Homo sapiens: one gene and its partners. The protein of the gene in region 7 purifies or fractionates together with the protein of the main gene of each other region. This does not show direct contact. Each region holds a gene or a part of one and is shown on either strand. Other genes may lie near its edges. The genes, in order: SLC12A4, PNP, SON, BPTF, PPP6C, TEX2 and MARCHF1.

Region 1 (3,500 bases), on a different chromosome or scaffold from region 7:
TGCCTTTGTTAGTCTGACTCCTCCAGACCAGAGGAGGGACTGTCTCATCCAGCCTTTTGGCCCTAAGGCCCCGCACAGTGCCTGCCACCAGGTGAGTGTCCACGGCTCCCTGCCCTGAATCTGTGCTTCTATCAAAGTCTAACACCCTTAAAAGACTCAGAGAGTCATGACCAGGCCCCAGGGTGACAAGCACAGGGGGACAAGAGTCATCTCATGTTGCTGGTTGTATCTGCTGCTGAGACAATGTCTCTGGTGAAAATCTGGGAACAGGGATCAAGAAATTCTTTCAAAGAGTCAATCTTGGCTGGGCGTGGTGGCTCATGCCTGTAAGCCCAGCATTTTGGGAGGCTGGGGTGAGTGGATTGCTTGAGCTCAGGAGTTCCAGACCAGTCTGGGCAACATGGCGAGACCCCGTCTCTACTAAAAAAAGGAAATGATAAAAATATACATTTTTAAAAAAAGGCCGGGTGCAGTGGCCCACATCTGTAATCCCAGCATTTTGGGAGGCTGAGATGGGTGGACTGCCTGAGCTCAGGAGTTCGTGACCAGCCTGGGCAACACGATGAAACCCCGTCTCTACTAAAATACAAAATTAGCTAGGCGTGGCGGTGTGCACCTGTAGTCCCAGCTACTCAGGAGGCTGAGGCAGGAGAATCGTTTGAACCTGGGAGGCAGAGGGTGCAGTGAGCCGAGATCATGCCACTTCACTCTAGCCTGGCGACAGAGTGAGACTCCGTCTCAAAAAAAAAAAAATGTCAGCTGGGCACAGTGGCTCACGCCTGTAATCCCAGCACTTTGGGAGGCTGAGGCAGGCAGATGACTTGAGGTCAGGAGTTTGAGACCAGCCTAGCCAACATGGTGAAACCCCATCTCTACTAAAAATACAAAAATTAGCTGAGCATGGTGGTGCATGTCTGTAATCCCAGCTACTCGGGCGGCTGAGGCAGGAGAATCGCTTGAACCTGGGAGGTGGAGATTGCAGTGAGCTGAGATCGTGCCACTGCACTCCAGCCTGGGCGACACACTCCGTCTCAAAATAAATAAATAAATAAATAAACGAAAAGTCAATCTTTTTCATGCCGTAATCCACCTCCAGGACCCTCTCCTAAGGGAACTGCTGGGGCATGAACAAAGATTCATGTTCAAGGATGTTCATGACAACAATGTATACAATGGTGAAAAAGTGGAACCCACAGGCAGGAGAATAATCACATTAATTAGGTTATGGTGTACCATGGAGAATCCTGTTTTCAAAAAACCATTTTCGGCAGGGTGCAGTGGCTCACACCCGTAATCCCAGCACTTTGAGAGGCAGAGGTGGGTGGATCAGTTAAGGTCAAGAGTTCGAAACCATCCTGGCCAACATAGTGAAACCTCGTCTCTACTAAAAATACAAAAATGTGGTGGTCGCCTGTAATCCCAGCTACTCAGGAGGCTGAGGCATGAGAATCACTTAGAATTGCTTAAACCTGGGAAATGGAGGTTGCAGTGAGCTGAGATCATGCCACTGCACTCCAGCCTGGGTGACAGAGAGAGACTCTGTCTCAAAAAAAACCCAAAAAACCAAAATCAAAAAACTGTTTTCAACACTTGGGAAACATACACACACACATACACACGTAAACATATACACATAAATGCATATGTATATATACACACATATACTTTTGGGAAATACACACAAACACACACACACATATATATATATATATATACAATTTATGTAAATAGAGTGTGCGTGTGCAATACTTCATAAGACCCTAAGACTTATATATACCAAAAGGCGAACAGTAGTGATTTCAGGATGGTGGGATTATGGGTGCTTTTAATTTTCCATTCTATACCTTTCTGCACTTTTTTATTATTTATTTATTTATTTTGGAGATGGAGTCTTGCTCTGTCACCCAAGCTGGAGTGCAGTGGCATGATCTTGGCTCACTACTGCAACCTCTGCCTCCTGGGTTCAAGCTATTCTCTGCCTCAGCCTCCCAAGTAGCTGGAATTACAAGTGCCCACCACCATGCCTGGCTAATTTTTTTTTTTTTTTTTTGCGACGGAGTCTCGCTCTGTCGCCCAGGCTGGAGTGCAGTGGTGCAATCTCGGCTCACCGCAAGCTCTGCCTGCCAGGTTCACGCCATTCTCCTGCCTCAGCCTCCCGAGTAGCTGGGACTACAGGCGCCCGCCACCACGCCCGGCTAATTTTTTGTATTTCTAGTAGAGATGGGGTTTCACCGTGTTGGCCAGGATGGTCTCGATCTCCTGCCCTTGTGATCCACCCACCTCGGCCTCCCAAAGTGCTGGGATTACAGGCATGAGCCACCGCGCCTGGCCTTTTTTTGCACTTTCAAACCCTCTTACAGTAAACATACATTGCCCTTTTTTTTTCTTTTTTGGTATTGCTTTTATATTAACAAAAACCACAATGGCACTCTCCAACTCTGTCAAGCAGGAAAGCTCCTACGTGGGCACTGTCCTGGCATCAGGGATTGGGAGCCCACTACAGAACTGCTTGGGGCAGGGGTGTGCTATGGGGGTTCCCAGGTAGGTCAAGGCAGATACTGGGTCCTTTTCTCTTCCACCAGGCCTTGGGTGGCGCTCACTGACCTGGAACCACACCGTTGGTGGCGATGGCACTCATGGAGATGGCCGTCAGCAGGGTCTGTGGGAAGGAGGGCCTGGGTGAGCGGCTCAGCTGGGTGGGCTCTGTGGGGGCAGCCGTGGCCCATGCCCAGCCCAACCCTCCCACGCCAGGACACTCACACAACAGCAGCAGATAAGCACGATGAGGAGGGCCTGTAGCACACCTGCTGTGCCCACCATCCAGGTCAGCCGCAGGAAGAGGATAACCCCAAAGATATTCTGCAGGCAGGGCAGGTACACCCCCATGAGGGTGCCCATGCTGGGTGCCTATGCGAACACAAAGGGAGGGGGCGAGTAGAGCATCAGAGGGATGCACCATGGAGAGTCAGCCCTAGTCACTCAGCAGGCCCCCTCCCCCAGTGGGGCCCCAGGGAACACAGAGAGTAGGGGTGACAGCTAGGATGTCTCTATTGACTTTCATATAGGAAGACAGTTGAGTCTGGGAAGGTGTAAAACCTGATTCTTTTTAAAAACCCACATTGAACTTTGGAACCTTAACTCTCTCTCAAGGTACTGCCTCCTTCCCTTCCTCTCTTCTGTTAAACTTCTAGAAAGAGAGGTTTGTCTCAGATCTCCACCTTCTCACCCAGCAGGCCCTAAGTCACCCAAGCCAAAGTCCCAGAAGTCATCCCTGGCCCTCCCTCTCAACCCCCAACTCTAGTCCCGGTAGACACTAACTCCTACCCAGTCTGTCTCCCTGCTGCCCTGAGATCAGCCTGCCTTGTCCCAGCCTTAGTCCCTTGAACCTGGGGCACCTGGGTGGTACCCTCCTGAGCCTGTCAACCTCTCCACACTCCAGCCCACTCTGCTGCTATAGTAGGTCTCTGAAAGCAAGTCTAATCTCATCACCCATGCTGAAA
Region 2 (2,592 bases), on a different chromosome or scaffold from region 7:
GAAGTCTTTAAATCCTACCCACCTAAAAAAAACGGAGTAACATACATACCTTTCATCATTGGGCCCTCTGAGAGGGTTCTGACCACTGAAACCAGGTAGGTTGATATGGTCACGGATCAGCATGATATCTCCAACCTCAAACTTGGGGTTCAGCCCTCCTGCTGCATTGGTGACTACCAGGGTGTCCACACCCAGAAGGTGGAAAACCCTCACTGGGAATGTCACCTTCGAAGCAAACAATCCGAAAAAAATTTACAAAATTTCATTAATTCAGCTACACTGAAATGCATGACATACATCGTGAAAGAAAAGGAAGGAGAGGACCAAAAATCCACCTAGCCCAGATAGCTAGGTAGTGAAAGAGGCTAGATAGTTCTCTCCTGCCTCTTCCAGATCCAACCGGACCTATCCCTCTGACTTACCTTCCAGAGTGGGTACCCTTCATACATGTGGAACCTGCCCTGCATCATCACACAGGCCCTGCCATTCAGGAACCCAAACACCAGTCGGCCAGCATGACCTGGCACTGTATACAAAACAGAAAGAGAAATGAATGGGATTATATTTTCATGCAACACATATCCATTAAGCACCTACTGTGAGTTACTCGCTCTGCTCAAAATGTTAGGTTGTAATTAAGTAAAAGACTCATTATTATCTCTGCTTTCAGAAAGTTTAAGTCTGGTGAGAGAGCCAGGCATTACTAATAATTATACAAATACAACCCAAGATTAGAGATATGGGGTGCGTTCAGCATGTTCAGCATGAACACACAAAGAAGGAAGGGCTTTTTAAAGAAATTTCAAGATAATACAAGCCATACTGCCAGAGAGTAAAAAGTGAGCAAAAAAAGTAGATACTCAGAAATGGAAGATTAAATACTACATGTTCTCACTTATAAGTGGGAACCAAATGTGTACATATGGACCTACAGAGTGAAATAATAGACACTGGGGACTCGGAAAGGTGAGAAAGTGGGATGGGGATGAGGGATGAGAAATTACCTAATAAGTACAATGTTCACTGCTCAGGTGATGGTTACACTAAAGCACAGACGTCACCACCACGCAGTATATCCATATAACAAAACTGCATTGTACCCCTGTAAATCTATAAAAATTAAAATTAAAAATAGGCCAGGTGCGGTGTCTCACACCTGTAGTCCCAGCACTTCGGGAGCCCAAGACAGGCGGATCAACAGGCCAGGAGTTCAAGACCACCCTGGCCAACATGGTGAAACCTCATCTCTACTAAAAATACAAAAATTAGCCAGGTGTGGTGGCACATGCCTGTAATCCCAGCTACTCGGGAGGCTGAGGTGGGAGAATCTCTTGAACTTGGGAGGTGGAGGTTGCAGTGAGCCGAGATCACAACACTACACTCGAGCCTGGGTGACAGAGCGAGACTCTGTTTCAAAATAAAGTGAGTACAGTGAATGCAGTAATTATAGACCTCTTCAAATTTTTCAAAGTTCTCAAAACATGTATTCTTATCTATTGCCCTAACTTAATTACCTGCCTCCTCAGTCCAGCAAGCAAGCTCATAGTATACTTACTCTGGCTTCTTAAAGAAGAGGCTACTGAACAAGGGGGAAAGAATTTGAACGCATGCAAGTGTCTCTTTCCTTATGACCCACGGAACAGTCCTATGGGAACACATGCCCACGGAGGGGTGCGTGGGAGTGCAAAGATAACTCCCCACAGACATAACAGCCATTATTACCATTTCTTTTATCTGGCAGTCACTTCTAATAGACGGCCAACCTATCCCTTAGGGAATGGGAGAGGGACTAGAACCAAGAGGAAGAGCTGAGAAATTCTCAAAGATAGAGGAGCTTATGCAAAAAAACAAAACAAAAACAGTAATAAAGTTGACAAAGGAAACCCAAGTGGAGTATAAAAAATAAACATGTTGATAAGCTTAAAAAAACTAACCCACTTATCATTTAATGCAGTGCCCTTCTCACTGGGGGTAGGAGTGGCCAGTGGAGCCAGCGTCACTACTATCTCCCTTAGAGAAGTATGCCCTTCACACACCCTCTGTTAATATTTCCCTCACCTTCTCCCTCTGCTCTTCCAGTCTTGTGTTAAAGAGTTTAAAAAAATAGCTATTAAAGGTCTTTTCCTGCTGACAGGTCTTAAAAAAAAATTCTTAACTCTCCAGGGAAAAGAAGATAGAAATCTTAAAAATTAATAAATAAACCAACAGAAGTTAGTTATTTGAGAAATTACGTAAACCAAATAAACAACCCTTGCCCTTTACTTGGCCCCTGTCACCTGGCCCTCTTCTGAGTCTTAGCCTCAGTCCACTGACACACACATGTCCTGTCTCTTATGGGATGTCTGCTAGAGGCATCTCCTAAAGTCACTCTGACTCATGGTGGGCTTTTCTCCTCTCTTACAACATTTGTCTTCAGTGAAATGCTAGGTCAAGGAGTAGAAACATTGGCCTCCTTGGTTGTGTTCCACAGAATTCCAAGAACATCCCTCAGTCCCATTCCCCACTTTCCCTTGCCAGTACCTGTACTTCGGGGAAAGTTGGGGATTTCACCGTAGTCAAAGATCTGGGCCTGAGTTAATTTATCAGTCAGAC
Region 3 (3,500 bases), on a different chromosome or scaffold from region 7:
TAAAAGGAAAATACAGTCAATGCTAACAGTTCCAAGATGCCTTAACACAAGGCAACAGGAAGAAGTAACATTATTGTCAGCAGCTGGTCTACTATACTCTAACCCAACTTAACTACTGAGCTTGGAAGAAAAAAGCAAACAGGGTTTATGAAATCTAGACTAAACCAGTATTGTAATAGGAAATAATGAAGATGTGCTAAAATATCTAACAAAAAATAAACTAAACTCTAGAAAAAAGGATGGTTCCTTGTCAAGAGAAAATAAAATGGAAATCCTGTTTTCTAAACATGAAATCCAGTTGAATTTGGAGGTGTAATAATAAAATTAGATATATACACATTTCCATATTTAGCAACTAGCATAACAAAAGGTGCCTTTTAAAAGTTCAAACTGGTGTCTCTATCCATAGTTATATAAAAATAAGCTGCTCTGTGAACCCCAAAAGGGGTTAATGTTTTTTCTGACAAATACCTGTATATATACAAGAAGTGCCTTCAGTTCAGTATCACTGGGTTCAAAAGGATATATTAAAGGTAATGTTAAAGGAGACGTTAATAAACATTCCAAAAAAGAACTTGTTACCTTTTCGGTCTGTCTTAAAATCAACTAGGATGGGTTCCTTATTGCCTTCTTTGTTTTTTCCTAATCCTTCTCCTTCTCTCCAGCCCATTTTTCTCATCAAAACGGCTCCCATTCCTCCAGTTACCGGGGCTGCTCTTAAGAACTGATCCTATCCAAAGAAAGAAAGGTAAAATGTCCCCATTTTACAGTTAGAACTTGGTGACAGATTCATTGTTTACTTTCTAAAAAGAGGAATCTTACTTTACTTCTAGATCTGTTATAGCAATTAAATGTAAATTCCTCTATACTTTATACATACTGTAGTGTGTATGTTCTGATTATTTGCACATTAACGTAATAGTATTTTGGAAGTCAAATAAGACAAGTAAATGGCAGTTTTGAAACAGTAGCCCTCGTGCCCCCCTCAAAAAAAAAAAATTAGAACACTCCTGTTTTCGTCCACTATTTAGGTTCACTGGTATCTCTTCTTAGCTTGCAAAATAAAAAGAAGGCAATGTTAAAACAATCAATGATATTAATTGTCCCAGGTGTACCTAGTTTATGAATAAAGCCCAGAAATCACTTAGAAATAGTTTAGACACTGAAGAAGCATACTGTTGTCATCCAAAGTTTTCTTCCCCATTCTACTATAAAGCAAGTATAAATATTTTACTTAGAAAATCCCTAAAGCAGAAAAAAAAAAAAAAACTCTTGAAATTTACACAGTAACAAATAGAAAACAATCACATAAAATATCCTGTAAGTATGCCAAAATGAATTTGAATTCTTTTAAAACCTAGCTTGATGTTAAAAGACTTTTAAAAAACTCCTTAAATGTTTACATACCTAGGCCTCGGTAGCAGCAGTGTTGTGAATAGTACGGCTGGCACTGACCGGGGCAAGAAGACAGCTACAAGGATTTGGCCCTGAAACAAGTTTCCATACAGAGGGGTGAAAGTTCACAGGTTATTCTGTGAACAGTCATCTCTCTTGTATCCAACCCACTGAACCATAATTTCCATCAAAGCAGCAAACCACTTAATGTCCTAAGATGCACAAGTATATATACATTAGCATGGTCAACAGTTATTTTTACAGGTTAAGAAATATTCAATGCCTCTTATTAAAGGGCATCCATGTACATATAGCAAACAGTATTAAGTTGTACTGTTGATCTTTATGGTCATTTTTTAAAAATTTGAAACATATCTCCAAATCATGCTTTATTTTCCCCTTGTTACTAAATTTTAGGTTTTTATGTTCTCTTACCAAATATATATATATATATATATATAAATATATAATATAGCAAAAGTCATTAACTTATCAACAGAGAGAGTAAAAAAACTTCAGTAGCTCAGGAAATAGTATGCACATCTCCTATATTGATAAGTTAATACTGAATGTAAAAAAGAAATGTTTGTATGCAGTAGTAAAACTGTATCTATCATCTTTTGTTTCCCAGCTTTGTAATTAAATGCTGGGGAGAAAACATGCCAATGACGTGTGACTAGACATTAAGTTCATCAAGGTGCTCTGATGGAAGGAGGCAGCTGTGGAGGTAAAAACATACCCCTGGTTCAGTTCCTTATTTGGTGCAGGCCATGCAGTGTAGATGTATAAAGAGAAAGCTGATGCTTGGATATTAACTGCCTTGATGCTACACACCTAGAATGTCTTTTACTTACTTCCAGGTTCATCCGTCCCTCTTTTCCAGGGAACACGCCTAAAAAAAAGGGCAACTGTGCAGAGTACAATATAAATCCCCAAATAACCCAGGTTTCCAATTTTGTTTCCATTCCCTAGTATCATCATCTGTTTCTTTACCCCAGTGTGAAAAAGCTGATTAATTTAATGAGACCACAATAACAAACTGTATTTATCAGGTCACATCCAAATCATTCCATTCTAGAAATAAAATTTCTTTTAAACGAACTACTTTAAATGTTTTACTGATTAATGAGACTACTGATAAAACTTTGCTTTTTTTGTAATCTAAAAATACACTGCAACAAACTAAAAAGAACACGGAGGATGTTGGTATTCCATGTGTTTTTTAACACATAAGGCAGATGCTGGACTATACTAAAGAAGAGCCAAAATGATCGTTTGACAGGTTTTCTAAACACAACTAAACATTTAATGAGTAGACAATATTTGTGATATTTAACATGGATCATACATCCTAAATTTTCAGCTGCCTAATGACTTCTACATGTTGTGGCCCATTTTTAATTTTCAAAAGTTTCTTTTTTAGTTGATACTAGCATCAAATATTCTTCAGTAATTCTATACAAATGAATCTTTTCCTTTAAGTGCTACTTTTATCTATAATTTAAAATTTGGTCTGAACATATCTTTATCTCATAATTTATCAAAATAATTTGCTTCCCAAAGTATATCTTACATAAAATATAAAGTTGAAGCCTTTTTTCAAGGTGCTACTAAACATTTTAAAGTTATTAAAGTCTGTTAACTGCCTACAAGACTGCAAATACCAGAAGAAATTATTTTAGGGGAAAACCAATTGAGTCAGTAAAAGATTCACTTTTTAAAAGTTATTTAAGTTATTAACACATTTATAAGTATACAAACATTATGGATCAGCACATCATTAGATAAAGACCAAAATTTTGTAATGGAAGCACATTCAGAAGTTTCTACCTAGCAGTGTACATGACTCTGTATTATGTGCCTATTTTAACACCCATAAGCTTTATTTCTAACTTCCTGAAATACTGGCTGAGTACTTAGCTTCAAGACTAAATAGTATTAAAGAATTAAAACTAAAGAAATAGATGTACATTTATAGTTCTTCCAAAGATGAAAGACATTTTTTCAAATATTATATAAATCACTTTCATAGTAACTATAATATAGAAGTCCAAGATTAATCCAATCTTTAAAATATTTTGCTATATACATTTTCACCCTTTATT
Region 4 (3,500 bases), on a different chromosome or scaffold from region 7:
AAGTAAGAATATTTATGTTGCTTAGTAGGAAAAACATCAACAATCCAGAGTTCCAGTTCAAGCTCCCCCAATGGTCAGCCAGTTATCTGTCCACAAGCAACACTGTTCCTCCAGATCCAAGTTTCCCAATCTATAAAATAAAGGTATTGAATAACTAAAGTCCCCACAAAATTCTGATTTTAAATAATCTTATATTCATATTTTACAATTTCAAAAGCATCTTCATAGATACTGCCTCATTTGATTCTCACAATGGACTTGTGACTTTATGGGGTAGGCAGAGAAAATATTCTTCTGATTCCCAACTAAGAAACTCAGGTTAGAAAGGTCAAGTACCCTGGCCAACTTAAAGGTGAGATAAAAGAAGGAACCTAGATCTCCTGAATTTTGTCTTTCAATACGTGCCAAATTACCTATGGGGTGTGTGTGTGCTAAACTGTAAAAAGCTTAGGGTTTTAGATATGTAATGCAAACACCAAGTAAGGAGGATCACTAAGGTCTGAGCAGTTACCAAAAAGGGGTCCAGAAATTTAAAATTCTCTAGGCGCTCTCTCTTCTGTCCAGAACTGTAATTCAACTAGAAACCCTGAATACCAGGAACATGCTGGAGAACTGGAAAGCAAAAGTAAAAACCATCCCCTAAACTCCCAATGACCAAAACTGATGGCGCAAAGTCCATGTACTAAGTAAGCTCCATATACATGTGAATCCCTCAAAACTTATTTACTCTTGCTTTTCTAAAATACATTTTTTATGCACAAAATGCACAAAACACCAAGTATAATTTAAAAATTATAAAGTAAACATCTATAAAACCGCCACTGTGGTCACCATTGCCAGTGTCCTAGAAGTCCCCATATGACTCACCCGGATTTCAATTCCCTCCCTCTCCCCTAGAGGTAAGCACTATCCTCACTTTGATGATAACACTGTATTTCATTACTACTTCGGTATGTATCTTAGGTATATATAAGGCCACTGAGGTTCACAAACTCAGGAGCAATATTCACAAAGAATACAATGGGAATAGTGCCCCCTCCAGGCAGGCAATGCAGCAGCCCTGTATCCCTACACAAAATAGCTTAGTTTTGCCTATTTCTGAATCTTATACAAATGAAATTATAACATGTATTTTTTTTGGCAGCTACTTGCTTCTTTAGCTTACCATTATATATTTGTGAGAATCATCTGCATAGTTCTGTGTGGCTGAAGTCTATTCATTTTTATTGCTGTAGGAATATACTACAATTTACTTAGCTAACTGATTTTGATAGACACCTGAGTTGTTCTTAGTTTTTGATTCTTATGAACAATGCTGCTACCAATATTTATGCCATGTATTCTGGTGCTCACATGGCCAACAACTTCTCTAGGGATATACCTAGAAGGTATACTGGGACCTTGGGCATACACAGCTTTGACTTTACCAGACCATGTCCAGGAAGTTTCCAAAATGGCTGAACCGACTGATAGGCCCACCAGCTGTGCATGAGAATTCTTTCTGCTCTATGTCTTTGCTAACTCTTGGTTTTGTTGGACATTTAAATTTGTACCAATCTCTTAAGCATATGGTTTTAATATGTACTTCTCTCATTATTAATAAAGTTCAGCAGTTTTTTGGAATTTGGGACATTTAGATTTCTTCTTTCCTCATAATGTTGGTTTGTCCTTTTTTTTTTGTTTTTCTTTTTTTTGAGACGGAGTCTGTTGCCTAGGTTGGAGTGCAGTGGTATATCTTGGCTCGCTGCAACCTCTGCTTCTTGGGTTCAAGCAATTCTCCTGCCTCAGCCTCCCAAGCAGCTGGGATTACAGGCGTACACCACCACGCCTGACTAATTTTTGTATTTTTAGTAGAAACGGGGTTTCCCCATGTTGGCCAGGCTGGTCTGAAACTCCTGACCTCAAGTGATCCACCTGGCTTGGCCTCCCAAAACCTTGGCCCCCCAAAGTGCTGGGATTACAGGTGTGAGCCACCGCACCTTGCCTGTTTGTCTTTTTTCCTATTGATCTATCTGGATTTTTTTCTTTCTTGATTTGTAGTAATTCTTTATATATTCTGGATATGTAATAGTCCTTGGTTGGTTCTTTTCTCATTTTCTTCACTCTCTCTGTAGTGAGTTTGATGAACAGAGGTTCTTACTCTTATTTTTAAAGTAGTTGAATTTATAAATCTTTTCATTTATGGTTAGCATTTTCTATCTGTTTAGGAAAGCTATGAAGATATTCTTCTATCTTCTAAAGGTATTATAGTTTTACCTTTCACAGTTAGGACTTTCATCCTCCTGGAATTGAGTTTATGTAGAGTGAGGTAATAATGGTCCAATTTCACAGTTTCCCATGTATATTCAATTGTCCTGGCACCATTTACTGAAAAGTCATCTCTTCCTCAATGATCTGCAATGTCACCTTTGTCATATAACAAGTGTCCACATACATGGGGTTCATGTTCTGCACTCTCTACTGTTCTGTTGGTCTATCTGCCTCTCCTTATGTCTGTACCTCACTATATTAATTAGTGAAGTATTATATACTAAGTTTTTTGGTTTTTTTTAGATGAAGTCTTGCTTTGTCACCCAGGCTGGAATGCAGTGGTGCAATCTCAGCTCACTACAACCTCCGCCTCCCAGGTTCAAGCAATTCTCCTTCCTCAGCCTCCTGAGTAGCTGTGATTACAAGCGCATGCCACCACGCCCAGCTAATTTGTTTGTACTTTTAGCAGAGATGGAATTTCACCATGTTGGTCAGGCTGGTCTCAGACTCCTGACCTCAAGCAATCCACCCGCCCTGGCCTCCCAAAGTGCTGGGATTACAGGCGCAAGCCACCATGCCCAGCCTATACTAAGTTTTGATATCAAGTTATCATATATAGGGCAAATAATCCTGTTCTTCAAAGGTACAGATATTCTTAATACTTTGTACCTCCATATAAACTTTCAGTATCAGCTTGTGAAGTTTCACTAAAAACAAAACCTCTTGGGATTTTGATGGGAGCTGCATTCAATTTATTAATCAATATTAGAAGACTTGCTAACAATATCGAGTCTTGCAAGGAAGCAGCTTAATGTACTCAAATTTTATTTGTCTCATGGAGATTAGCCAACTAATAAAATTTTGGTGTTTAAAAGGGTTATCTGTCTCACTGTTTTAGCTCACTGTCTAAAGATTACTCTAGTAGTTGGGGTTTATTATATCCTGTCTAAGAGGTATTTCTGCTTGACTCCAGGAAGCAACCATTTCTTCAAATCAGCACATTTAAAAACGTATCAAAATAAGTTCATGTTTTTAAACTTACCGCAAGAATAAATAAGATCACCTCTAAAGTTAAAATAAAGCTTATGTTACTTACGTGGCCCTGTGTTAACTGAGTAAGTTGAGCCATGGTGAGCTTCACTTGTCCTTGTTGGGGGCGAGGGGGTTGTGAGGCTGAAGACTGTATATTTGAAGTGGACGTTGCTGAAGTTAAGCTTTTCTGCCCAGGTGTTGAGGAAACCGTGTTAGGG
Region 5 (2,865 bases), on a different chromosome or scaffold from region 7:
GAAGCCAGAATGAGACAATGCAGATAGGAAGTCCCAGCAGTTAATCTCAATCCTTCTTTCTTCATTTCGGATAAGCTCAGATATACCTGATGTGGGATATAGAAAGCTACACTGGAGCAAGCTGGGTCTTCTGCTGAATTCGTCATCAAATACCAAGGGAAAACAAGGGGTGGGGTGGATTTTATTCTTAAAAAGCCTCAGAAGTTACTGTATTATAAAGGGACATGACTGAATAGGTAAGAAACGGATTCTTCATTGTGAATTTTCCTGATGGCTTCTGCAAGGCTCATAGAGATGTTGATCACCTGTATTTTGGAATGGTGCTTCATCTTGTCCTCCTGGGGTATGTTATTGGTGACTACTACTGCTTTAAAGCATGCGTTGTTGATGTGAGAAATAGCTGGACCAGAGAAGATTCTGTGAGTCAAGATAGCATAAACTTTGGTGACTCCAGCTGAGAGAAGTTTGTCAGCTGCATGGCAGATTGTGCCACAAGTGTCAACCATGTCATCCGCAAGGATGGCCACCAGATCCTTCACATCTCCCACAAGCACCATGCGGTCGACTTCATTGGCCTTCTTTGTGAATCAAGGCAAAGTCCACATTCAGCCTGTCTGCAATGGAGGTCACTCTCTTAGCTCCACCAGCATCAGATGAAACAATAGTGCAGTTCTTCTGCTCAGAGATATTCTCCCTTATCCACTTCAGGACACCTGGCTCTGCATACAGATAGTCCACTGGGTTATCAAAAAAGCCCTGAATTTGAGAAGCATGTAGGTCCATGGTGATAATATGATCTGCGCCTGCCACAGATAGCATGTTTGCAACAAGCTTGGCTGAGATTGTCACCTGACTCTTTATTATCCTGCTGGGCATAAGGGAAGCATGGGATGACTGCAGTAAGCTGGCTCGCTGAAGCAGTCTTGCAGGTATTAGTCATGATCAAAGGCACCATTAAATTGTCATTGATTTTGCCACAACCACTCTGAATGATGTAGACATCCTTTCCACGTACACTTTTGCCAATTTCCACACAGGTCTCCTAGTTGCTGAATTTCTCAATCACTGCCTTGCCGAGCTCCAGGCCCAGGCGATCGGCAGTTTTCTGAGATAAGCCCTGGTGGGAGCTGCCGCTGAAGATTTTGATATTCAGGATCCTGGCCAACTACCCTAAGCACTCTTCACTAAGTGATCACTGCTGCTGCAGAGACTGCAACCAAAGTCGGCCCAGAGACTCAATACTAATCTCTTTGCGATGCTACTCCGCCATCTTCAAGATAGGCAGTACTTTGAACTTTCAACTGTTTTCAGTTAAAACACACACACACACTTTGAACTTTCAACTGTTTTCAATTAAAACACACACACACACACACACACACCCCTTATATTGGGAAGTGCTCCAGCATCATAATGAAGTCAAAAAACTAGATTCTGATCCTGCATCAGTGTATCTTAATTTAGATAAGTTATTTATCTAGTCTGAGCTTTTGTTTCCTTAAGTTGCAAAAGAATAATCTCTTTCAGAATTATTGCAACATCTACATATACTAAACCTTCAGTAAATGGTAGATACTGATAGCAATATCTTTATTATTAAATCAGAAAACACAAAATTTTGTTTCATAGTACCTATTGAATGCTTTTTCTTCCAGAAATTTCTAACTGTTTATGTAGCTGTACAGTTTCCATAGTTGTGCACTTGACTCAGGCCAAAATTGCTGTTTGCCTAAACTTATTAAATTGTTGGAGATAATTATAGAGTGCGTTCTATAATCTTGATGCCTTTAGTAGTAATAGGATTTGGTATTTTATTTAAATGATTATGTAGGCCGATTGTTTTTTAAGTGCTAAGTACTTACAGTGCCTTTCTAAATTGCAGTTTGTTCATATCAACAACTTAAAACTCATCTGCAGAGCACATCAACTAGTGCACGAAGGCTATAAATTTATGTTTGATGAGAAGCTGGTGACAGTATGGTCTGCTCCTAATTACTGCTATCGTTGTGGAAATATTGCTTCGATCATGGTCTTCAAAGATGTAAATACAAGAGAACCAAAGTTATTCCGGGCAGTTCCAGATTCAGAACGTGTTATTCCTCCCAGAACGACAACGCCATATTTCCTTTGAGGCCTTCGCCCATCCTGCTGACCCATTTTTCTGCCCTCTTCTTACCCCAATTTTCTTGTATTACCCTCTACAATATACTTTTTATTGAGCACTTTGCTGCTGAAATGCTGCCTCTTGCCTTTTTTTTTTTAAATTTTAAATTATCTAAATTTATTGTTTGTTGTGGTGTCTATAGCAAAGTTTTTCTATCAATTTTCCCCCATCCCATCCCCACCCTGGACTCATTTGAGAAGACTTGAGAAATGTCTTAATACTCACACTGCTGCATGTAGCTCTTGCTTATTTACTGGTCTGGGAAACAGGATGTGTTTCCTTTTTTTAAAAGCCAATTGACAGATTACACCTAAATACTCCTCCTTTTGTATCATTCAGCCTTTTGTTTTAGTTTGGTAAGTTTTAAGAAATTTCAGCAGCAAAGTTGTTATTCAGTGGGCACGATGGACTCCAAATGCCTCAAGTTATGTATACCTGTCCCAGATGTAAACTTCATTGTCCTTTGTTGGATGATATTTTAAATGGATATAAAATAAATTGGTCTAAAGGGCTGCCCTCCTTGTTGTGTTTTTAAATTTTAGTTAAAAACTGCTACAGCTTATGACTTTGTACTTTAAGATAATTGTATTGATCTTTTTTCAGATTCCTTGTATTTTTTAATAAAGTAATCTTAAATAAAACTCAGATAGGTTAAGTGTTAGAAATTTTAAACAGCTTACATTGTTAGCGTAAAGTTATCT
Region 6 (3,500 bases), on a different chromosome or scaffold from region 7:
AGATGCTCAAATACTTGCTGAATGACGATCACTGTTCAGTCAATCCTTTCAGTAAAAAGATTTTTAAATTCTCTATTTTGAGCCTAAAATAATAAATATAACCATCTATAAGAATACAGCCCAAAAGACAGCATGAGGTCCAAGAAAGGACTGAAAATTGAATAAGAAAACAAGCCAGCTTATGTCAGCTTTGAACAGCAAGAGAAATGAAACTTATAAAATGCATATTGGGATTCTGAAAGGTTATTTGCAGGAGCAATCCAACGGGTAGGTTTTAATCTCAGATCCTAAATAAGCTTATGACTGAAGCCAGCTCCTCTTGCCCAGTGCTGCTTTCAACTGTTAGAATAAGCTGGGGAGGCACTTAATGTGTTTGTTGCAATAATCTTCTTAGGGAAAAGCCCTTAGAACCAATATTCCAGGCAAATCCAGCAGACAAAGGTTACCTGGTTGTTTCAAAGCCCACCCACATTTCCCATTCTCCCAGCTTCCACACAGAAAGGTTAGATTCTTCTCTCAATAGTCCCATTTATGCTCACAGTGACCTGGCACATGGCTTTTGTTCACCAAAGAAAAGCCTTTCCTTTCAAGGACTTAAGTCTTCTGCAATAAGAGTTAATTCTTTAAGTTTAACAAAGTTCTCCCAATACAAGTAGTCCCCACTTATCTGCAGTTTCCGTCACCCATAGCCAACCAAGTTCTGAAAATATCAAATGGAAAATTGCAGAAATAAACAATTCGCAAGTTTTAAACTGCATGCCATTCTGGGTAGTGTCATGAAATTTCTCACTGTCCAATCCCATCCTGCCCAGGATGTGAATCCTCCCTTTGTCCAGCAGATCCACGCCGTAGGCGCTACCTACTCATTAGTCACCTTTAGCTGTCTCAGTTATCAGATCAACTGTCACCATATTACAGTTCTTGTGTTCAAGTAACGCTTATTTTACTTAATAACAGCCCCAAAGCACAAGATTAATGACGCTGGCAATTTGGATACGCCAAAGTGAAGCTGTAAAGTGCTTCCTTTAAGTGAAAAAGTCAAACTTCACAACTTAGGAAAGGAAAAAATCTTGTACTGAGGTTGCTAAGATCTATGTTAAGAATGAATCTTCTATCTCCGAAAATTGTGAACAATATGTGGTTGTTATAACCGTTCTTTTTTTTTTTTTGAGATGGAGTCTCGCTCTGTCGCCCAGGCTGGAATGCAATGGTGCAATCTTGGCTCACTGCAACCTCCGCCTCCTGGGCTCAAGCGATTCTCCTGCCTCAGCCTCCTGAGTAGCTGGAACTACAGGTGCACACCACCACACCTGGCTAATTTTTTGTATTTTGGTAGAGATGGGGTTTCACTGTGTTGCCCAGGCTGGTCTGGAACTCCTGAGCTCAGGCAATCTGCCCACCTCAGCCTCCCAAAATGCTGGGATTACAGGTGTGAGCCACCGCACCTGGCCCAACTGTTCTATTTTTATTAGTTATATTGTTAATCTCTTACCGTGTCTAATTTATAAATTAAACTTTATTATAGGTATACATGCATAGGAAAAAAACGTGGTGTATATACGGTTCAGCACTATCCATGGTTTCAGGCATCCACTGGGGAGCAACATAAGCCAGTATTCTAGGCCCAGCTATCAGTCCTTGACCTTGCTGTGTAATCTTGGAAAGTTATTTAACCTTTCTGAGCCTCAGTTTTCTCATCTTAAAATAAGATTGATAATAGTATCTACTATTCATAGGGTGGTATAAAGTTTAAAGGTAGGAACAGTGCCTGGCACACGATTCCCCGTAAATGATAGTTACTCACATTGTTATCACCTGCGTATTGTTTTGTTTTTCAAAGCACTATCACAAACACCTGAGACTTCAAAAGTCCTGAATACAATCATTTTCTTTCAATTGTTTAATTTCTCAGATTCTTAGAATCATAAACTCATATAATCTATGAGACTGCTAGCAGTAGGGGATGGCACTAAGAAATCAACTCTTCATTTTGGAAGAGAGACTTTTTTTTTTTTTTTAAACAGAGTCTCACTCTGTCACCCAGGCTGGAGTGCAGTGGTGCGATCTCGGCTCACTGCAACCTCTACCTCCCAGGTTCAAGCGATTCTCCTGATTCAGTCCCAAGTAGCTGGGACTACAGGCATGTGCCACCACGCCTGGCTAATTTTTGTATTTTTAATAGAGCCAGGTTTTCACCATGTTGGTCAGGCTGGTCTTGAACTCCTGACCTCAGGTGATCCGCCTCCCAAAGTGCTGGGATTACAGGCATGAGCCACCGCGCCCTGTCCTGGAAGAGAGACTTTTAAAAGTCCAAATTAGTGAAGTGACGCGCAGCTGGTATCCTGCCTTGCTGCCCAGTGCAATTTTGGGTGATCCACGCAGCCATTGGGAAATATGTTTCTAATGGTGAAGCAGGGATGACAGGTGAAACTGTCAGGACTGTAGCCTTCTGACTCCAAGTCTAGTGTTCTCTCCACCCCACCAATGCCAGTCAAGGGCTTCTGAACTTTCATGACCTCCTAGCATCCCTCTCATTAATGGTGCTTCATGGACATTTCACGCAGTGTAATTACGCATTATAAAGAGTTTGGAAAGGAGCAACACAAAATCTTGTATAACCTATGAGTTGCTTTAAAACTCACATGTAAGAATATTCACAACAGCATGGGCTTCCAGTCTTCTTATTACAATATTTACTTTAAACTTGGGATTTAAAGTTGACAAAGACCTTAATGAATAGGAAGACAAAGGGAGCTGTCTGTCCATGGCTCGTTAGCTCCTGAAGTTAATGTTTCTCACAGGGACAAGAGTCAGCCAAAGGATAGTGCTCTAGGCAAATTGGAAAATGTTCCTCCAGCCACAAACCATGGATTATTGCCTAGGCGTTGAGTGGCAAATCTTACGAGATGCTTCCCAGCTTTTCCCAGTTAACCATTCATCCTGTCAGTGGACAGCATGACCTGTTATTGGGTGCTCACTAGAACCAGGGACATAAGTGATCTCATTTAATTCTTACAACTACCTATAAATAATATACTACCCTAGTTCATCTAAGACCATTGACTATAAGACACACTGTTATTTTATGTGCCAAAAAAGGAAGCCACTGCTGACTACAAGTCTAAGACCCCATACATTACAAGATGCTTTTTTTCCCCAGGAATGTTAACATTACATAAATTACACTGTCTTAGCATTGTTGAAATGGGAATATTTTCCCACTTTACAAAGAAACTGAGGTACACAGAAAGAGAAGTAATTTACCCTTAAGGTCACAGAGCTGGTAAGCAGAGCACAAGGATACAGACCCAGTCAGTCCAGTCACCTTTTCATGGCAGTAAAAGATTTCCCAATAGCCTCGTGAATTACTCAAAACTGCACTTGGCAGAGAGACAGACATCGGCATCTAACTCTGGCTCCAGCAGGAGCACAGGAGCTCATTAGTGCAGCAATTCTCTGAACATCTCTGAACCTGACCACTCTGAACATGTCCACTCAAG
Region 7 (3,500 bases):
GCTACATTTATGGAGTGAAAAATGTGTGAAGTCTGGAGTCTCCCTCTTCTTAGAAACAACTGTCCTATTTTTCCAACTGTTGGCTCTGAAAAGCAACTGATACAGACTGATTTCTTGTGAAATACATACAATAGTGTTAACAAGCTAGTACTATGTTTATCTCTTTTCTTATTGGTATATGGATAAAACTCAGAACGTATTTCTAGACCAATTCACGGAAATATAGTTAATTCAGGTTATACCTGAAGTAGATTGTTAGAGATATATGATTTAAATTAACTGTGCTTTTATGGATTGACCTAGAATTTTTGTTAAGTCTGCCTGGTGACGGATGGATTGAACTATTACATGTAATGTTATTTTTGAGTGACTTGTATGTTGCAGGTAACATATTCCAGATAACATATTCCAGAAATCACTGACTATTTGGGACACAATGATTGGAAGTCGGAGAATGCCTGGAATAGATTCTTGTGCCTGCCTTCAATTCAGTGTCCTGAGGCACATCAGGAGATAAATGGAAGCTTGGTGAGAGTGATAAATTAGGTACTGACATTGAGGCTCATTGGGGCTGACTGTGGTGAGCAATGATCTGATTCTCATGAAGTATATCACATGCTTTTTGGACCCTGCCGGATGTCCTGTCAATCTCACATCTGTTTCTGGCTCTGGCTCGGGCAATCATTGTAGGCAGCCTTTGACTCAGTTGTGCTATTTCCCATCTCAAGCTTGCGCTGAGTATCTTTCACTTTCTTTTCTGTGACTTTACTAGCATGTCTTATCTTTCCCCCTGCTTCTGACCGTGGTCCATGCAGCCTGGAAGTGAGGAGGAGCTAACACCACCATGGAGCCTCGCAGTCAGTGGGAATGGGTGGATAGTTCCGAGACGCACTCTGCAGCTCCTCATAAGGTCCAAGTGAGAAGGAGCCTCAACCGGCCATGGAAGTGACCCAACTGCATGCACCTGTATTAGCCTTTACTCTCTCCCTGGTTCACTTTACCCGGTGCCTCACTCCTACTCTCCGGGATCACCTTGTATTATTTGCACATAATTTTTTAGTTCAGACTCTGCTTTTGAAGAGAGCCTGGCCTAAGATTTATGACTTTCCTTCTCTAGAGAAAAATGAATAAGAGAAAGAAAAGCAGGACTAAATCATAAGCTACATCCATTACAATGAGAGAAAAAAAGAAAGAAGATAAAACATGTATTTTCAGAGATACTTTCTTTACAAATCTGTCATCTTTCAGATCACCAAGTGAGACCATTTAAATAATTTTTCTAGTAACTGTGAGGTCATCTGTTGACATAATGATTAATTTGCATCTCTTCCTTCTTTTTTACTATACTTTAATATGTAGTTATTGGCAGTCTACTCTATGCTCAACACTCAGCTAGGTCCTGGTAATGTAATGATGAGTGAAAGATGTGGCATGATTCCTGCCTCTTTGGAGCTTTTTATTTCTGTGAAATTAATTAAATAATCACACAAGCCAGTGCACATACGCAAAAGTGAGTATAATGAAGGCCAGATGCACAGTAATGGGGAAGCCTATTAGAGGGGAGTTTGACTCAGCCAGGGAGGTCTGGGGAAGCCTCCTTGAGGAGGTGACATTTTACCTGACATCTGAAGGAAGGGTTAATGAGGTGGAGAAAAAAGATAAAAATTTTCTAACAGAGGGAGAAATGAAGTGTGCTCAAGGTCCTACTGTTGGGGGAAGTTTGAAAGACTCACAGTCAGAGGGAGTGTGATGTAGGCTGAAGAGAGGTACTAAACATAAGGGACTGTCACAAAATATTTGCCATAGTAAGGAATTAATTGTACATGTGTGTGTGCATGTGTATGTGCATGTAGTAGGGGAGCAGTAAAAAGGTGCTAACAAATACAGACCATCTATTTGCAAAAAAGAAATGTATGAATCTGGGAAGAATGTTGTATCGAATATGCAGCCTAGCAAATATTAAGAGTTATGAACATTTGAATCAAATAAAAGTTGTAGGAGTTATCATTTAAAGTTAGAGAACTTCTAAAGAAATAGAGTTGAAAGAAAGGAGAATGAACTATTTATTTATTTATTACTCAATGTATTTGTTCCAGCTCATGGTGATGATACCTTAAGGACTACCTACAAGGCTTTTAAGTTCCATATAACTAAGTAGTTTTTACATAGTTATAAAATTTATATATTTTTGCTAGTTATCTATTAATTTTTAGAGTGGTAGAATTATGGGTAGATATTTTCTTTTAAAAGTACAACATTTCAATTAAAATTTTACTTGATTTATTTTAATAGTGTAACACACAAAGGTCTATTAGATGTTACTGAAGCATAGCACATAGCCACATTTAATTATTCATTCTGGAATCAGCTTTTGTATTTAGGTTTTAATGAAGTTAAATTGCCTCTATACTCACATGAGTTTGGATTTTGGTTCTGCTAAATTCTCCCAAATTTGAAATTCGATCAATTAGAGACAAATTATTTTCCACTTAGAGCTATATTTCCTTTAACATTTCTTAGCAATTTTGTTTTCATGGAACCCAAAGTCAGGTCCCAGGCACCCTGTGAAATGACCCTTTAATATTTAGCATAATATATACAATAAGTTCTTGCCAGCTCTCTTTCCTTTTTAATAAGATAACTTGGTTTATTTATAGCTTATGTTTAAACTTAATCTTTTATGAAATCTTTTAACCTCATGAGTATGTCTTATTTTAGAAACCTTTACTAAATAAATGGATAAACAAGTATTTATTAAGTAACTACTACATGAAAGAAAGATTCTGTGCCATTAACAATAGCAGAGAATTAAAGAGATGGGGGAATCAATTTGACGCATTATTAAGATATTAAGTGACAAGTATAATATAGAAGGAAAAGTCTGATACTTTTTGGTTTGTTCCTTATGACATTCATGGTAGAGAAGATGAGTCTTAAGAAGTGATAATAGATGCTATTTCTATAGCTTTTGTTATGAGGATAAGCCATAGTTGTCAATTTTCAAAAATTGTTAAAAATGAGGCAGAAGGCTTTAATTTTTTGAAACATACATTACCCAGTAATGTCAAAAATAAAGGAAATGTTTATTTTACAAATAGGAAGTATTTTCAACTGTTAATAGTTGTCATAGGACTATCGTTAGCTTTTTGTCCCACTTTTTAAATTTCCCAAATACTTTTAGTAATAATAAGACTGAATTATTATCATAATAACAATTTAAATTAATAATTATTGGATTAAAAGATGAATATTAAAGCAAAACTTAAAAAAATGTTGACGTCTGTTAAATCTAATTAGTTTTCTTGTGGATTTTAAAAATACTTTTCTGAGTGTATAATTGTAATAAATTATATGTAGAGGAAAAAATGATGCGAAAATAATCCTCTGTTTCATGCTAATTTCTATTCTGTGGCAACACATCTAATGTGAACATTTATTTGAAAAATTTCCCTCAAAACAGTGTAAGAGAGAACTTATGCTGATAAATTGTTTTAAAGAAA

Evidence for each region.
Region 1: the proteins of MARCHF1 (region 7) and SLC12A4 purify together in Homo sapiens (affinity purification with mass spectrometry; one large-scale study listed by BioGRID and IntAct). This does not show direct contact.
Region 2: the proteins of MARCHF1 (region 7) and PNP purify together in Homo sapiens (affinity purification with mass spectrometry, with the first as the bait; one large-scale study listed by BioGRID). This does not show direct contact.
Region 3: the proteins of MARCHF1 (region 7) and SON purify together in Homo sapiens (affinity purification with mass spectrometry, with the first as the bait; one large-scale study listed by BioGRID). This does not show direct contact.
Region 4: the proteins of MARCHF1 (region 7) and BPTF purify together in Homo sapiens (affinity purification with mass spectrometry, with the first as the bait; one large-scale study listed by BioGRID). This does not show direct contact.
Region 5: the proteins of MARCHF1 (region 7) and PPP6C purify together in Homo sapiens (affinity purification with mass spectrometry, with the first as the bait; one large-scale study listed by BioGRID). This does not show direct contact.
Region 6: the proteins of MARCHF1 (region 7) and TEX2 purify together in Homo sapiens (affinity purification with mass spectrometry; one large-scale study listed by BioGRID and IntAct). This does not show direct contact.

Annotation. Positions count from the first base shown.
Region 1 is NC_000016.10:67,955,138-67,958,637, forward strand, and holds part of SLC12A4 (solute carrier family 12 member 4), read right to left. Parts: intron 2,908-3,500; coding exon 2,761-2,907; intron 2,660-2,760; coding exon 2,605-2,659; intron 1-2,604. UniProt on the Homo sapiens protein: Mediates electroneutral potassium-chloride cotransport when activated by cell swelling. May contribute to cell volume homeostasis in single cells. May be involved in the regulation of basolateral Cl(-) exit in NaCl absorbing epithelia.
Region 2 is NC_000014.9:20,472,406-20,474,997, reverse strand, and holds part of PNP (purine nucleoside phosphorylase), read right to left. Parts: coding exon 2,521-2,592; intron 527-2,520; coding exon 423-526; intron 226-422; coding exon 50-225; intron 1-49. UniProt on the Homo sapiens protein: Catalyzes the phosphorolytic breakdown of the N-glycosidic bond in the beta-(deoxy)ribonucleoside molecules, with the formation of the corresponding free purine bases and pentose-1-phosphate.
Region 3 is NC_000021.9:33,570,538-33,574,037, reverse strand, and holds part of SON (protein SON), read right to left. Parts: intron 1,488-3,500; exon of another isoform or gene 1,408-1,487; intron 731-1,407; coding exon 583-730; intron 1-582. UniProt on the Homo sapiens protein: RNA-binding protein that acts as a mRNA splicing cofactor by promoting efficient splicing of transcripts that possess weak splice sites.
Region 4 is NC_000017.11:67,940,503-67,944,002, reverse strand, and holds part of BPTF (nucleosome-remodeling factor subunit BPTF), read right to left. Parts: coding exon 3,347-3,500; intron 1-3,346. UniProt on the Homo sapiens protein: Regulatory subunit of the ATP-dependent NURF-1 and NURF-5 ISWI chromatin remodeling complexes, which form ordered nucleosome arrays on chromatin and facilitate access to DNA during DNA-templated processes such as DNA replication, transcription, and repair.
Region 5 is NC_000009.12:125,148,939-125,151,803, reverse strand, and holds part of PPP6C (serine/threonine-protein phosphatase 6 catalytic subunit), read left to right. Parts: intron 1-1,882; coding exon 1,883-2,131; 3' UTR 2,132-2,865.
Region 6 is NC_000017.11:64,256,761-64,260,260, forward strand, and holds part of TEX2 (testis-expressed protein 2), read right to left. Parts: intron 1-3,500. UniProt on the Homo sapiens protein: During endoplasmic reticulum (ER) stress or when cellular ceramide levels increase, may induce contacts between the ER and medial-Golgi complex to facilitate non-vesicular transport of ceramides from the ER to the Golgi complex where they are converted to complex sphingolipids, preventing toxic ceramide accumulation.
Region 7 is NC_000004.12:164,374,020-164,377,519, reverse strand, and holds part of MARCHF1 (E3 ubiquitin-protein ligase MARCHF1), read left to right. Parts: intron 1-3,500. UniProt on the Homo sapiens protein: E3 ubiquitin-protein ligase that mediates ubiquitination of TFRC, CD86, FAS and MHC class II proteins, such as HLA-DR alpha and beta, and promotes their subsequent endocytosis and sorting to lysosomes via multivesicular bodies.